2 linked regions of the Homo sapiens genome follow. The protein of the gene in region 1 purifies or fractionates together with the protein of each later gene. This does not show direct contact. Each region holds a gene or a part of one and is shown in the gene's direction. Other genes may lie near its edges.

What was found.
Region 2: the proteins of DHRS9 (region 1) and TTYH3 purify together in Homo sapiens (affinity purification with mass spectrometry; 3 studies listed by BioGRID and IntAct, with this or other methods). This does not show direct contact.

What each region holds. Positions count from the first base shown.
Region 1 is NC_000002.12:169,065,713-169,072,568, forward strand, and holds the start of DHRS9 (dehydrogenase/reductase SDR family member 9), read left to right. Parts: upstream 1-3,850; 5' UTR 3,851-4,005; intron 4,006-6,856. UniProt on the Homo sapiens protein: 3-alpha-hydroxysteroid dehydrogenase that converts 3-alpha-tetrahydroprogesterone (allopregnanolone) to dihydroxyprogesterone and 3-alpha-androstanediol to dihydroxyprogesterone. Also plays a role in the biosynthesis of retinoic acid from retinaldehyde.
Region 2 is NC_000007.14:2,627,657-2,634,985, forward strand, and holds the start of TTYH3 (protein tweety homolog 3), read left to right. Parts: upstream 1-4,329; 5' UTR 4,330-4,499; coding exon 4,500-4,622; intron 4,623-7,329. UniProt on the Homo sapiens protein: Calcium-independent, swelling-dependent volume-regulated anion channel (VRAC-swell) which plays a pivotal role in the process of regulatory volume decrease (RVD) in the brain through the efflux of anions like chloride and organic osmolytes like glutamate.

The sequences.
Region 1 (6,856 bases):
CTGCAAAATAATATTCCACTGTGCATATGTACCACAATTTATTCAGTTATCTCACTACTAGTGGGCACTTGCTTTGCTCCCAGTTCTTTTTGCCCCATCCTGTTCATATACACTTATATACATTTATATAGGATAGAATCCTAGGAGCAGGATTTTTGTCTCAAATAGTAGCTTTTTATTTTAACAGATTTTTTTTCTGGACAGCTTTCAAAAAAGGCTGTAGCAATTCACATATCCATCAGCAAAGGATAAGATCGCCCTTTCCCCCACAATCTTAAATAGTCTCAAGGAGCCAGCAAGAATCAGGGGTTCTCCAAGGAGAGGGGAAAGTCTATGAGATTCCTTACTCAGCAATAAATGAGCTAACAGTGAATTATTCCTCAATAGAAAGGCCCCTTTCTATTCATCTTTGGATCTTTTTAGCCAAATAGGCCTCACACAGAACCAAAGCCCAGAACAACCCAAAACAGGGTCTGAAGTCCAGAACAACCCAAAACAAAGTCCAGAACAAGCCAAACAGGATCTGAAGACAGTTGTCTCTAACTCACTCCTCCCCACTTCATGAATCCCCGTGAGTTCTTTCCCACTGGATAGTACTTGCATATTACACAATCAGCTGCATCTAGCATCTGCTCTTAATTTCATTTGATATTTTATCATCTCAGTTAAGATTCTGGGAAAAAGAAGTTGCCTTCTTTTTGAAAGGGATTGAAAGAAACTAGGAAACTTGGCAGGAAGATCATTCTTAAGCCAGGAAAAAAATTTTTAATGCTCACATGTGAACATGTGATGGTCATACCAGAAGGAGCACCCACCTCCCTCCCTCTGTGACAGACACATTTTCTTAGCCTTCACCTTTCCTTCTTTCAAGTTGCTGAAAATCCACAGTGTTTCTGTTCATTTGTTACTTTCATTCTCACCTATCTTCTCTCTTGCTCCATCTACCAGAACAATAATTCCCCATATAATACTTCTCACTTCACTTTTCAACGCAGGACCTCTTGTTGGGTAAGCTAAAAGGATATGTGCTCTGTAAATAAGAAAAATCTTTATTCAAAGAATCTATCAAATGTTCCCATGACTCCATCTCTATTTGTATATCTAAAGATTGCATAGTAGAGAAAAACAAAAGATTAGCCCTGCTTCATCTTACAGCTGGGAGAGTCATGAAAGGCCAAATGGGTAACAAAGCTCCTGGTTTTGACCAAGCCTAGCCAAAGAAGCTACTCAAATGTCAAAGGCATTGTTTGTATAAAAAGGGAACCAAAGTACAGGTTCCCTTTACAGTAGAAATAAGAGAACTCCCTGTTGACAAAGGGAGGAGGAAGAAAATATAAAGTACACTTTTAAAACATGAAGTCTTCATAGCAGCTTATAGTCGTTCAGAGAAACATGTTCCACTGAGAATGACTTGAGAGAGAGGATTACATCATTATGCCAGAAGGAAGAAGCCACTGTGCATGCTCTATCACCAGCCTCACCCTCCTGGTCAGCCTTACAAGAGTGACACTGGATATACTCCAGAAGTTGGACCCACCACAGCCTGCACACTGGAGTAAGTGCTTTCCTCCAGTTGAAGCTCATCTTAGAATGATCTGTGACTTAGACCATCCCCAGAATGGTGTAGTTGCAGGAAGCCTAACGTATGTCTCCTGAGACAGCCTCAGATCTGAGTTTCCTCCTTATGTTTTGGTATTTGGAAAGGGGTGGAGAAGATACTCTTGGGTAGAAGTATGGGAGGCATACAGATTCAGAAGAAAAAGGATAACTCTATCTTTAGTGTGTTGTCTGTGGTGGCATCTAGCCTTACCACTGTATACTTACATTCCACCTACAAACATTAAAATAAAATGCACAGTGCACTCCTTTGTTTTAAAAAGGAACTAGGAAAAAACTCAAATGGCAATTTGGTTCCAGATTTTTTTTTTAATGTGATCTTTGATCTGAAGTCAATGTAGGATGAGTTCTGAACAAAGTAGCACTTTCAAAGGTTGTATATTAAAGAGGTGAAATGAAAGACAACTTGGCACTTGAGATATGAATTTGAATGTGTATATGGTTACAGTCTGGATAAGACACTGCTAACATGACTTCATTAACTGATCGCCTATGTGGGACCATTGGACAAGGAGAGGGGGTGTTCTGGCTGTGGTGCCATATACTGAAACTGAACCCATGAGTTGGGCCCACAGGAATTGAGGGACAAGCCAGATAGATGGCAAGAATTCTAATTTCCAATATGCAAATCAGTCTAAACATTTGACTTTTTTTAAGTCTATTTGGAAAGTTTTTGAAACACGGCTGCACTAGGCGAGTTCATTAAGTAGCAAAATTTTAACTATTGTTATAACTTTTTCTTTGCCCTTTTCAGTTAACACTGCATGACCACCCAGGTGCATGAGGCTCTCTTCTCCTCTTAGTGACAATAACAGGCTCACAGGAAGGGTTCAGTATTAATTATTTATACCTTACTTCATGTGGCTCTAAGTCAATGTATTGTCTATGAGGTTTTATATTTAAGCCATACTTATGAAATGCTAAAGAGGAAAAAGCATATTTAGCACATTTGGGGCACCCTAAATGTGAACCTGAGTAAATTTCAGTTTGTTTGTTTGTTTGTTTTTGTTTGTTTTGAGACGGAGTCTCACGCTGTTACCCAGGCTGGAGGGCAATGGCGCGATCTTGGCTCACACGCAACTTGGCCTCCCAGATTCAAGAGATTCTGTCTTAGCTTACCAAGTTGCTGGGATTACAGGTGCCCACCACCATGCCTGGCTAATTTTTTGTATTTTTAGTAGAGATGGGGTTTCACGATGTTGGCCAGGCTAGTCTCAAACTTCTGACCTCAAGTGATCCGCCCGCTTTGGCCTCCCAAAGTGGGTTTGTTGTTCTTTTAAAGAAAAAAGACCACTACTTATTTTAAAGGGTGATAGCAGTGTCCTGACTCTACCTAGACAGATATGTTCATTCATGTGCTCATTCCAGTTGAACCATAATAACTGCAATTTTCAAAGGAGGAATACAGAGTCTGGGAAATCAGAAGAGTATAGCAACAAACTGGTATACGAGGAAACTGAAAATGAAAAATCAGCAAAGTGGTATTTGTACCTGCCTGAGTGGCTACAGTGGTGAAGGTGAAGGGTGGCAGGCTAGATTAGCACCATCTCCTCCCCTCCTCGCCTGCGGCCTCAGTACTTTCCACTGTGGTCCCAGGATACGCCAGGTCAACTGTGATCAACTCTGACACAGACAAACTCTGGGAGGGGAGGAGGCATCCTTTCCTATTCTCAGCGGTCTCAGTTCCAGAGACCACTTTAGTAAGCTCTCCTTGTCATACCTTAAAACATAAATTAAGACCCATAAGTAATTCCAAAACCTCATTTTATTATGTTGTTTTTATCTCCTTGCTCGCCCATCTTAAAAAAAATGGTAACACCAATCTCAGAGACTGATTTCTCCTACTTATTCTCTTAGGAGGGAAGGAGTGTTAAATAAGCCAAGGCATGCTAACAGGAAGGAAAAAATGGAGATTATGAAGAATAATCACAATTTGAAAACTATTAAAACCACGCACCAGGCAGTTTACAAAATATTTATTTCTTTGTTATATTATTTCTGCTGCTGAATTTGGTCAAGAGATTGTACTAATCATAAAATGAATGTTATTGATCATTTTAAAGTCTCTTCTAAAAGTAGCTAAATTTATACTGCTGATTCCTTTTGAAACATGCGACCTACAGCTTCTTGGCTTTTATGAGCTATTCAAGAGATATTTAGTCATCACGTTGTGTCACAATGGGAGTGACTCACAGAGCAAGGAGAGAACCTGAGGATTCCTCACACATGTAGTACTCAGAGCTCTACGGAAACCCAGGCACCTCGACCTCAAGAGGATCAGCCTGGCCAGGGTGGCACAACTCTTCCTTCCCCGTGCACAGCAGGAAAGCTGCCATCAGCTGAGCAAGTCCACCAACAGTTTCTGTGTCCCACTTCATCTTTAATAAGGTAACTGATGACAGTTTTGTCATTTATTCTTTTATTTATCAAGTCAATCTAAACTTTCTTTGATTTTCCTCACTCTTGCAGAATGAATCGGTGGTCTTTCAAGCTGTGGTCAATGTTGCTACTTCTTTTAATGTAACACATTAGAACCCAGTGATGGGAGCTGGGTCCATCTCACCATAGAAATGACCTCGGTGTGACCTGGGATCTTGCCTTGAACTCCTCCAGGACTCTCTTTGAATGTCCTTTAGCACCCTAGTGTCCCAATTCAATTCATATTTTATTTTCTCTGTGCCTTCTTGACACTATCTGTGAATCTTATGATTAATTGGAAACTGGAGGGGGAAGTCTCCAAAAAGCACAGGATTCTTAGATGAGTTTCTTACTGAAGCAGCAGATTCTCTGTCAACTGCAGGTCTGATCTGTTTGTCTGTCCGCTTTATCAATATTATCAGATGTAAGTTTACATGAATACACACACATATTCACTAAACTGAGGGGAAAAAATGCCTTGTAGGTCATAAAAAAGCAGGGAAATTCCCAACAATTCATATTTGATCCCTGGATCCAGGGGTGGCAGCAATAAGCCTGCTTTAGATATTTACTCCCCATTTTATGATCCGGTGGTTTGGTTTTTCAAATGATGATATGGCTCCTTTCGCAATGACTTGATGTTTAGGAGGTGTGCTTCAATAAATACATTTTAAAATCAACAATCAAGTTAGAGTTGTACAAATGGCTCTGAAATGTCCCACTACACTGTTAGACCAAGGGCACAGATTGTGCTTCTGTACTATTTATCCTAGTATCCCTCGGCATATATTAACTGCTCTAAAAATCTCCTTGGCTACACGCTGCATCAAATCAAAGTTAAATGTTATACCACCTTTCTATTCTATTTTTAATATTCAAAGAGGGTGCTCAGATTTTAGAACAAATTTCAATGTTTAAGTACACACAAAAAAATCATTAACTCATATATTTCAAGAGTAGGAAATGGGAACTGGTGTTAAAACTCTTATAACAAATGTCACTGTCTTAAGGGACAGTGTTTAAAAACGCATACCTGGCCGGGCGCGGTGGCTCATGCCTGTAATCCCAGCACTTTGGGAGGCCGAGGCCGGCGGATCACAAGGTCAGGAGATCGAGACCATCCTGGCTAACACGGTGAAACCTGGTCTCTACTAAAAATACAAAAAATTAGCTAGGCGTGGCAGCGTGCGCCTGTAGTCCCAGCTACTTGGGAGGCTGAGGCAGGAGAATGGTGTGAACCCGGGAGGTGGAGCTTGCAGTGAGCTGAGATCACGCCACTGCACTCCAGCCTGGGCGACAGAGCGAGACTCCGTCTCAAAAAAAAAAAACAACAACAACAAAAAACTCAGACCTTTTCTTCTGCTCAAAGATCACTGTGGCTGAAATATACTGAAGTTTTAAACACACTTTTGGAACCTATACATATGTTCTATGTTCTAAGCTTTCCTTAAAGCCTTGTGACTACAAATGATAACTGTACACAACATATAATCTTTCCCAGATAGCAATTGTTATGCAGTGACCATAAATAAAGTAATCATAGCTTTAACAATAATTTGTAACCTGCTAATACTGTCAGGAAACATTGTCAAAATAATAAACCTAGGAGGGACTTGGGATAATTAATGAATAGTTAGGGATGTGATGGTGAATTATAATTTAAACGTTTTGAAGGAAGGCAAAAGAAAATCAGAGATGCTTTTATCCTTAGAACTAAAAATGCAAAATGTAAATCCAGCAGATCTTCCCTATTTGAGGCAGTTGGTACACCTCTGCTAGGAGGGAGGGAAGCTACATCCTGAGGAGGCTGTCTGAGTGAATCTGTAGTGGAAGTACACACGAACTCCATGCCTCGCTGTCCCAGTACCCAAAGCACAGTCTGGCTGCCAAGGATTACCTCCTGCCCTCAGGGAAGCAGGAATCAAGGGCAAATGTAACTAACCAGAGGAGGAGCTTCTTCATCCATTGAGTAAGGGAACTTACCCTCCCACGACGATAAATACCAACTCAACTATATCATCAGCAGCATAATAATTATTATAATTGTTATTTCAGTCAGACTCTCAAAAAAGCATTCGTTGCTTAATGCAAGCACATTTAATGTAGGGTCCCTTGGTGCCATTAAAAAATTTTTTTTTCAGATTTCTGGGTGGACCATTTGAACACATTTCTCACAGAAACATAATTTTTTAGTTTATGTCAATAGGTTCCAGTGTTCATTTTTTTTTAAGTGTGGAAGAAATCTCTAAAAGCCACCTGGGTTTTTTTTTTTTTTTTAAACAAAACAAAACAAAAACCAGTTTTTTTTTACTTCAATGAAAAGGAAAAAATGAAAAAGGAATGTTGTGTTAAGTCAACCGGGTTTACAATATTCAAATATACAAGAGGCATACATGTTCAGTGGCTTTCAGTATTCAGAAAGCCATGCAAGAGAACTCCAAAAAGAGAATACTTTAGAAAATCATTGCTCAATGTTTTCTATTTGATGTATTTTGGTAAACAACATAGTTGTTGATTCAACTTGGGCCACAATTGCAACACATTGGAAGTAAATAAAGATTCTACAAACTCCTGACAGTGTGGTTGACTAGCTTTGGTATCGCTTTCTAAAAGGAAACACTTCATGAAGTTATGTGGAAATAAAATCAACTGGTCTGGGAGGAACTATCTAGAAAGAACTCTACATTGCTTATAAAAAGTATACCTCACAATAATATTGAGATATTTTCTGTTCTTTTTTTTAAACTGTGTCATTTATTTTTAAGAAACAGAGGAAGGTGAATAAGAGAAGTGAAATTAAATAATCCTATTTTAACTTTTT
Region 2 (7,329 bases), on another chromosome or scaffold:
AGAAGTGGGGAGGGAGGAAGGGCCCCTGGAACTAGGCTGAACCCTGGTTCCCTGACCAGCTTGTGATTCTCAAGGCCTCCCATGCAATGGCGGGGACCGGGCCTCAGTTGCTCCGTCTGTAGAGTGGGACTAAAGTCCAGCCTCCAGCCACAGTGGTTGCAGGACAGATGGGAAGAACCACACAGCTCTGGGCAGTGACTGTCGGGTCAAAGCAGGTGGGATGGTGGGCGGAGCTTCCTCCATGCCCTGGCCCACACTAGATCCTCTCTCTGGCCTTCTCTCCTTTACCCTTCCTGGCAGCTGGAGGGAGGGACCCACGGAGTTTCTCTTCAACACCCGGATCCCAAGCAGCATTGCACGGGGGTGAGGTAGGGACTCTGGCTGTGTTCTTCCAGAACCTTCACTGTGGGCCCCTTATTCTCTCCACCCTGGATCCCTTTTACCAAATTCTTCCTCCACAGGCCCCTTAGGAATAGATTTCATGGCCCAAACACACTGCAAATATTACTCAGTCATCAGTACCTTTTCATCCCATACCATCAGAGGCACAGGGCGCTGGCCACCAGGAAGCTCTGAGAAAGCCGGTGTGTTTGTTTCTGGATTTGCCGTGACAAAGCTCCACAAACTGAGTGGCTTCAAACACAGACATGCATTGTCTCACGGTTCTGGAGGCCAGAAGGCTGAGATTGAGGCGGGGCGCTCTGAGGGAGGGAGCGCCCCAGGCTTCTCTGCCAGCTTCTGGTGGCCCCTCGGCGTTCAGGGCTGTGGCGGCATCCCTGAGATTCTGCCTCCGTGTTCACACGGGTGCTTCCCTCTGTGTCTCTGTATCTCTGAGTCTGTGTCCAAATTTATCTTTTCTTATAAGGACACCATCTTTGCATTAGAGAACACTTTAACCCAGTATGACCTCATCTTCACTGGATTACATTTGCAAAGACTCTCATTTATTTATTATTTTTTTGAAATGGAGTTTCACTCTTGTTGCCCAGGCTGGGGTGCAATGGCGTGATCTCGGCTCACTGCAACCTCCGTCCCCCCGGGTTTAAGCTGTTCTCCTGCCTCAGCCTCCTGAGTAGCTAGGATTACAGGTGCATGGCACCACGCCCAGCTAATTTTGTAATCTTAGTAGAGACAGGGTTTCTCCATGTTGGTCAAAGTGGTCTGGAACTCCCAACCTCAGGTGATCCGCCCGCCTCAGCCTCCTAAAGTGTTGGGATTACAGGCATGAGCCTGTCACCCAGGCTGGAGTGCGGTGGCACGATCATAGCTCACTGCAGCCTAGATCTCCTAGGATCAAGTGATCCTCCCGCCTTAGCCTCCCAAGTAGCTGGAACTACTGTGGTGGCACAAGCCACCACACCCAGCTGATTAAATTTTTTTGTAGAGAAGGGTCTCACTATGTTGTCCAGGCTGGTCTCAAACTCATGGCCTCAAGCGGTCCTCCTGCCTTGGCCTCCCAAAGTGCTCGGATTTCAGGTATGAGCCACTGCTCCCGGCCCCTTTCTTCAAAGAAGGTGACGTTCACAGGTGCCAGGAGTTAGGACTTGAACATATCTTTTTGGGGAACATAATTCAATCCACTACACCTGAGTTATCATTTCTTTCTTTCTTTTTTTTTTTTTTTTTGAGATGGAGTTCGCTCTGTCACCCAGGCTGGAGTGCAATGGCGCAATCTCGGCTCACTGCACCCTCCACCTCCCGGGTTCAAGCGATTCTCCTGCCTCAGCCTCCCGAGTAGCTGGGATTACAGGCATGTGCCACCATGCCTGGCTAATTTTTGTATTTTTTTGTAGAGACGGGGTTTCACCATTTGCCCAGGCTGGTCTCGAACTCCTGACCTCAGGCGATCTCCCCTGCCTCGGTCTCCCAAAGTGTGGGGATTACAGGCGTGAGCCACTGTGCCTGACCCTAAGTTATCATCTCACATCATGTCTGCATCAGACTTTCTGGCTTTATCAAAAGGAAAGGTACAATTTTGCCAGGCTTCTGGAAACAGGGGAAGGAACTCCTGTACCCCCTGCCTGCATGTGTGTACCCTGGCAGGGCTGCCAGGCTGGTGTGGAGGGCACTGGAGTTGTGGTGGGGGGAAGCAGGAGGTCTGTTTGTGGCCATGGGAGCTGCTGCTAACAGCAGGAACCAGAAACGATCTCAGGCCATGAGGACAATTTCTGCAGCTGGCCAGGGACTGCCCTGTTCATCCCTGGAGTTATGCGACACAGAACTCTGAGGTCAGAGTCAGCCCAGGGCACGGGCCGTGCAGGCGATCCCCTGGCTGTGGAGATGAGGTCACAGGCTGGATGCTGGAGCAGTGTCAGGCTAGGAGTGGGCGTCCTGCCTAAGCCACCTGTTCACAGTGAGCAATCAGCTGGCGCCAAAGAAGAGGACTCACCTGGCCAGGTACCAGCCCACTCCAAGTAGGTAGCCTTGGTCTTAGGGGGTTGGGGGGGGCTTCATTCTGCCTGGAGCTCCCACCATCCTTGGCATTGGAGAGAGAGGAACCTGAGCCAGTATCCCCACCCCACCCCAAATTTCTGGCTCTTCGGCCTTTAGGGATGGAGAATGCGACCTCCCCCCTTCTGCCTGGCTGTTATTTCCCAGCTGGGTGGTGTCTCCAAGTTATCCAGCGGGTGGAAACCGCAGCTCAGCTAGTCCCTCTTGCCCGGTGCCCTATCACAGGAAAACAGGCGAGTCAGGGCAGTCAATGAGCCAAAGTCCAGGCCTCCTGGGAAGACACTGCCCGGAACCGTCCCTGCCTGCAAAGAGCTCTTCCTGCCAGGAACGGCCTGCCTGCCCACAGAGCTGGCCAAGTCGGGCACAGCAGATGGTGGAGCCCGGGTGTGGAAACCTGTTTCTCAGTACACAGGAGGTCCAGGAATAAGGCCCCAGGTGATGAAGCAGAGCCAGGATGCACCCACTGCCCTAGAGTGCGGAGGGAGGCGTGCACCTGGGCCCAAGCACGCACTATGTCCATCCTCCTGGCTCTGGCAGCTCCCATCTCCCCTTTAGCAAAGGAGGAGGCACAGGCATGGGGAGGCCCTGTTAGGAAATTTGGCTGTGTGGCTCCAAAGCCCATGATGGGCCCTCTCTGGCAGGTGCCTGAATTTTTAGGCCCCAGGACACCAGAACAGGGCACCGTCTTCATCTTAGGTCTTGACAAAAGACTCAACCTTCCCCAGAGGGAAGGCCGGATGGGGACTGAATCTACCTGCGGATCCACTTAACACTCGTACCTTTTTAAAAAAAATTTTTTTTATTTTTGAGATGGAGTCTCACTCTGTTGCCCAGGTTGGAGTGCAGTGGCGCAATCTCCACTCACCGCAACCTCCATCTCGCAGGTCCAAGCAATTCTCCTCCCTCAGCTTCCAGAGTAACTGGGATTACAGGCGCCCGCCACCACGCCTGGCTAATTTTTGTATTTTTAGTAGAGACGGGGTTTCACCATTTTGGCCAGGCTGGTCTCGAACTCCTGACCTCAGGTGATCCGCCTGCCTCGGCCTCCCAAAGTGCTGGGATTACAGGCATGAACCACCACCACGCCCTGCCAACACTCGTAGCTTTATCATCCCCTTTTACAGACAAGGACACCGATGCACAGAGTGGTTAAGTAACTTGCCCCAGATCACACAGCTCTAGGTGCCCCAGCCAGGCCCTGAATCCAGATCATGTCCATTGTACAGATAGGCCACTCGGTGCCTTGCTGGGCGCTGCGGGCTGTGGGCTGTTGTGTGTGCAATGGGGAGGCCAAGACCAGCCCAGCCCACCAGGCCGGACCCTCGAGTCAAATAAGAAACATGCAAAGATCCAAACGAAGAGCGAATTCATGGAATGAAGCGCAGCTGCATATGCAGCCAGGGTTCCAGCCCCCACGGCCACGTGGAAAGACTGGCTGGCCCGGGTCTTACAGCGCTGAGGGTCGGTCTTCCAGCGCCTTAGGGGCCAGGCGTCCCTCCAAGAAGGCGAGGAAGTAGGCGGAGCTTCTGCCGGCGGACTAATGACGGTACAGAGGCGGGGCCGAAGGGCGGGGACACGTGGAGGGGCGGGGCCATTGGGTAATGGGCGGGGATGCGAGTGGAGGGGCAAAACCATCAGGTAAAAGGACCAATAGAGGTTCAGGAGCGAGTGGGCGGGGCACGCTGTGGGGCGGGATCGGCGGGGGATAGACCAATGGTGGGTAAGAGGCGGGACAGAGGGCGGGGCGCGCGGGGGCTGGGCTGGCGGGAGGCGGGCCAATGGAGGCTCGGGGGCGGGGCCGGCGGGCGGACGGGCGGGGGTGCGGAGGGGGCGGCGGCGGCGGCGGCGAACAAAGAGGCGGCGGGCGCGGGCGGCCGAGCGGAGCCGAGCGCAGCCGAGCCGGGCCGAGCCGGGCCGGGCCGGGCCCAGGAGCGCGCGGATGATGCGGGCGGCCAGGCGGGGGTCGACGGGTCCCTGAAGCCCGCGCCCCGGGCCAGCAAGGGAGCCCCGCGCAGGCCGCGCGCATCCGGAGGCGGCCGGGCCCCGCCATGGCCGGGGTCAGCTACGCGGCGCCCTGGTGGGTGAGCCTCCTGCACCGGCTGCCCCACTTCGACCTGAGCTGGGAGGCCACTAGCAGCCAGTTCCGGCCCGAGGACACCGACTACCAGCAGGTGACATGGGCCTCTCGGGGTCGCGGGGTCAGGGACCCCAGGTCACGGCCCCCTCCTCTCCCAGGGTCACGGCCCCCATCCCCGAGGGCCTAAAGACCCCTCATCCCCCCCTCCAGGGTCACGGCCACCTCCTCCTCGCAGGTACCGGCCTCCTTCCTTCTCGAGGGTCCCTTCTGAGTCCTAGGACCCTTTCTTCCAGGGTCATGGCCTCCTCCTCAAAGGTCTAAATACCCTCCAACCCCCAGTGAGGGTCCACGGCCCCCCTCCCGATTCTGGCCTTCCCTTCTGGTGTCACTAAGGCCCCTGGGTTTCATGGAGCTGCCTCTCCCCACTCCGTGAGCCCCCTTGGCCAGTGGAGGGCCTCTCCACCATCACTGTTGGCGGCCTGGTGCTGTGTCCCAGCAGAGACCCCTCCCCAGATGACCCCCAGGCTCTGAGATCAGAGCGGGTGCCTGAGCACATTGGGTGCAGGCAGGCAGAGACTCCTCGCCCACTCACCCCCGACTGGGGAATCCCACTGCCAGGCTTCCAGTGGGTGAATGGCCTGGGCCGCCGCCAGCCCTCTGTGGCCGGTAATGACCCCCTGCTTGGCGGTCAGGCTGTGGGATGTACACAGGGTGCCGTGTGTGGCCGTGGGAGACCAGGCTGCCTGTAGCCCCCGGGGGAGGGAGGCCCGGCGGCCAGGAAGCACCGTGGGCCTCAGGCAGGGAGGCTGGAAGCGGCTGAGCCCAGGCAGACCTGGGGGGCGGCTGGGGGCCCTTTGCAGCCCTCTCCCAGGGGAGCCCTTAGCCTGGCATCATGCCAGGCCCCAGCACCACCCCCATCGCCAAGCTACTGTCATTTGAGTGCGGGGCAGGGGACCAAGCTGTGGGCATTTCCTTCCTGCCTAGAGATCCGGATTCCAGAAGCCCCGTGACCAGGGTCCCTGGTCACCCGGAGTTTCTCTCTGGACGGATCATGGCAGAGCCCCATGGTGGGGTGGGGATGGCTTTGCTTATCAAAATGGCTTGGGAATCCGGTATTCCGCGGGCAGCCTAGCACCTGGACTCTTCAGAACTGCGTTGTCTGTGGCCTCCCGCATCCAGAGGAGGGAGGCGGAAGTGGAGGAGCAGGGCACCTGGGAGCCCACTGCTCCCAGCCTCGCGCTCACTTGCACCCAGGCCCCCCAGCCGAGCCGATGACGTTTCCTAACAGATGAGGAAGGGGGCGAGGGATCGGCCCAGGCACGCCCAGACACAGCAGGGAGGAGGGAGGCGGAAGGATTGGTATAAAATCTCACGCCTGCGTTCTAGAAGCCCAGCCCTGGGGGACCGTTCAGTGTGGGGGCAATGCACATTCAGGAACTTCTGGAACTTATTCCATGCTGATGGCTTTGCCACTTGTCCCTGGAGGACTCTGTTGAAGCTGCAAGGAGGGTGTGCTTCACTTTGGAAAGTTCTCTGCCCTGAGGGTTTGGCCCATTTGTCAGTTCTTAAGCTCCGGGGCAGCCCTGGGGCGTGGGGGGCGGCTGTTTCCTGCTGCCCCTTGGGCTGCCACCTGCCCGAGCTGCCAGCCACAGTTGGACTTCCTTCCAGCCCTCCGGGGTGCCTGCATTCCCACATTCGAGACAGGCAGTGAGAGGGAGTGAGGGGCGATGATGTCTGCAGCCCACAAGAGCCTCCGGGCAGTAGCCAGGCCCCTCTGCTCAGCCTGACCTGCCTGGCCTCCAGCAGGGTGCTATGGCCCTGGGAGGCCCTGGCTTCTGCCCCCTTTCCTCCCCTGCCCTGCGCTCTGCTCTGCTGTGGGAGGGCTCTGACTCACTCTCTCTCCTGCCTCATCTCCACAGAGCAGAATTAGCCACTGAATAATTCACGATGTGGAAACCGGCCTGCCTCCATCCCCCGCCGCCTCCACTCCCGGCTCTTGGCGAGGGGCTGTGGCGTGAGCTGGTCCTGGCGTGCGTCCTGCCCCTGCCCTTCCAATACTGGTGCTTTTCGGCAACTGCTTGGTGTCTCTGAGCCTTCATTGCCTCATCCTGAATCTGGGCTGGCCGTGCCTCCTGTGTAGGGTCACCCCTGGGAGGCAAGGGCCAGGAGCCCCCTTCCTGGGAGAATGGGCAGTGGGTGGGCCTGGGCTGTGGCAGGCGCCCCTTCCTGCCTCCCCTGGTGAGGAGTTGCTGGCTGTAGTGGGGGGTGGACCCCTCACCCATCCTGACTGAGGGCTCCCTCTTAGCTGTCTCTGTGCTGCCCCAACCTGGGCTGTGCCCTGCTGGGGAGTGGGCATCTGCCCCGTGGTTATGGGGGCGGGGGGATGGAGGGGAGGTGGGGCCTGGGGTTGGGAGTTGGGGGTGTGGCACGGGGGACTGGCCTTTGTCCTTTGCTATTTCTGGCCCCCGTGGTCTGCTGTTGGGAACCCTGGTGAAACCCCCGGAGGGACCAGGGCCAGGTCCTGTTTCAAGGCCCTGCGTGGGACTGCCTGTCACTAGTCACTTTTCCCACAGCCCCAGGAGGTGGGGAGAGTTGTCCATTGTACAGATTAGCAAACTGAGGCTCCGAATCACATAGTGAGTAAGTGGTGGGGCCGCAGCCCTGCTGTAGGTCCCTCGTCCGGCCCCCCGAGGAGCCGGGGTCAGCCTGGAGTCGCAGGCTCCCCGGATTCCCCCACGGCTGCCTTGCCGCTGGGGGTGTGACCGTGGGATTAGAAGCTGATGGGGGCTGAGGGAGCTGTG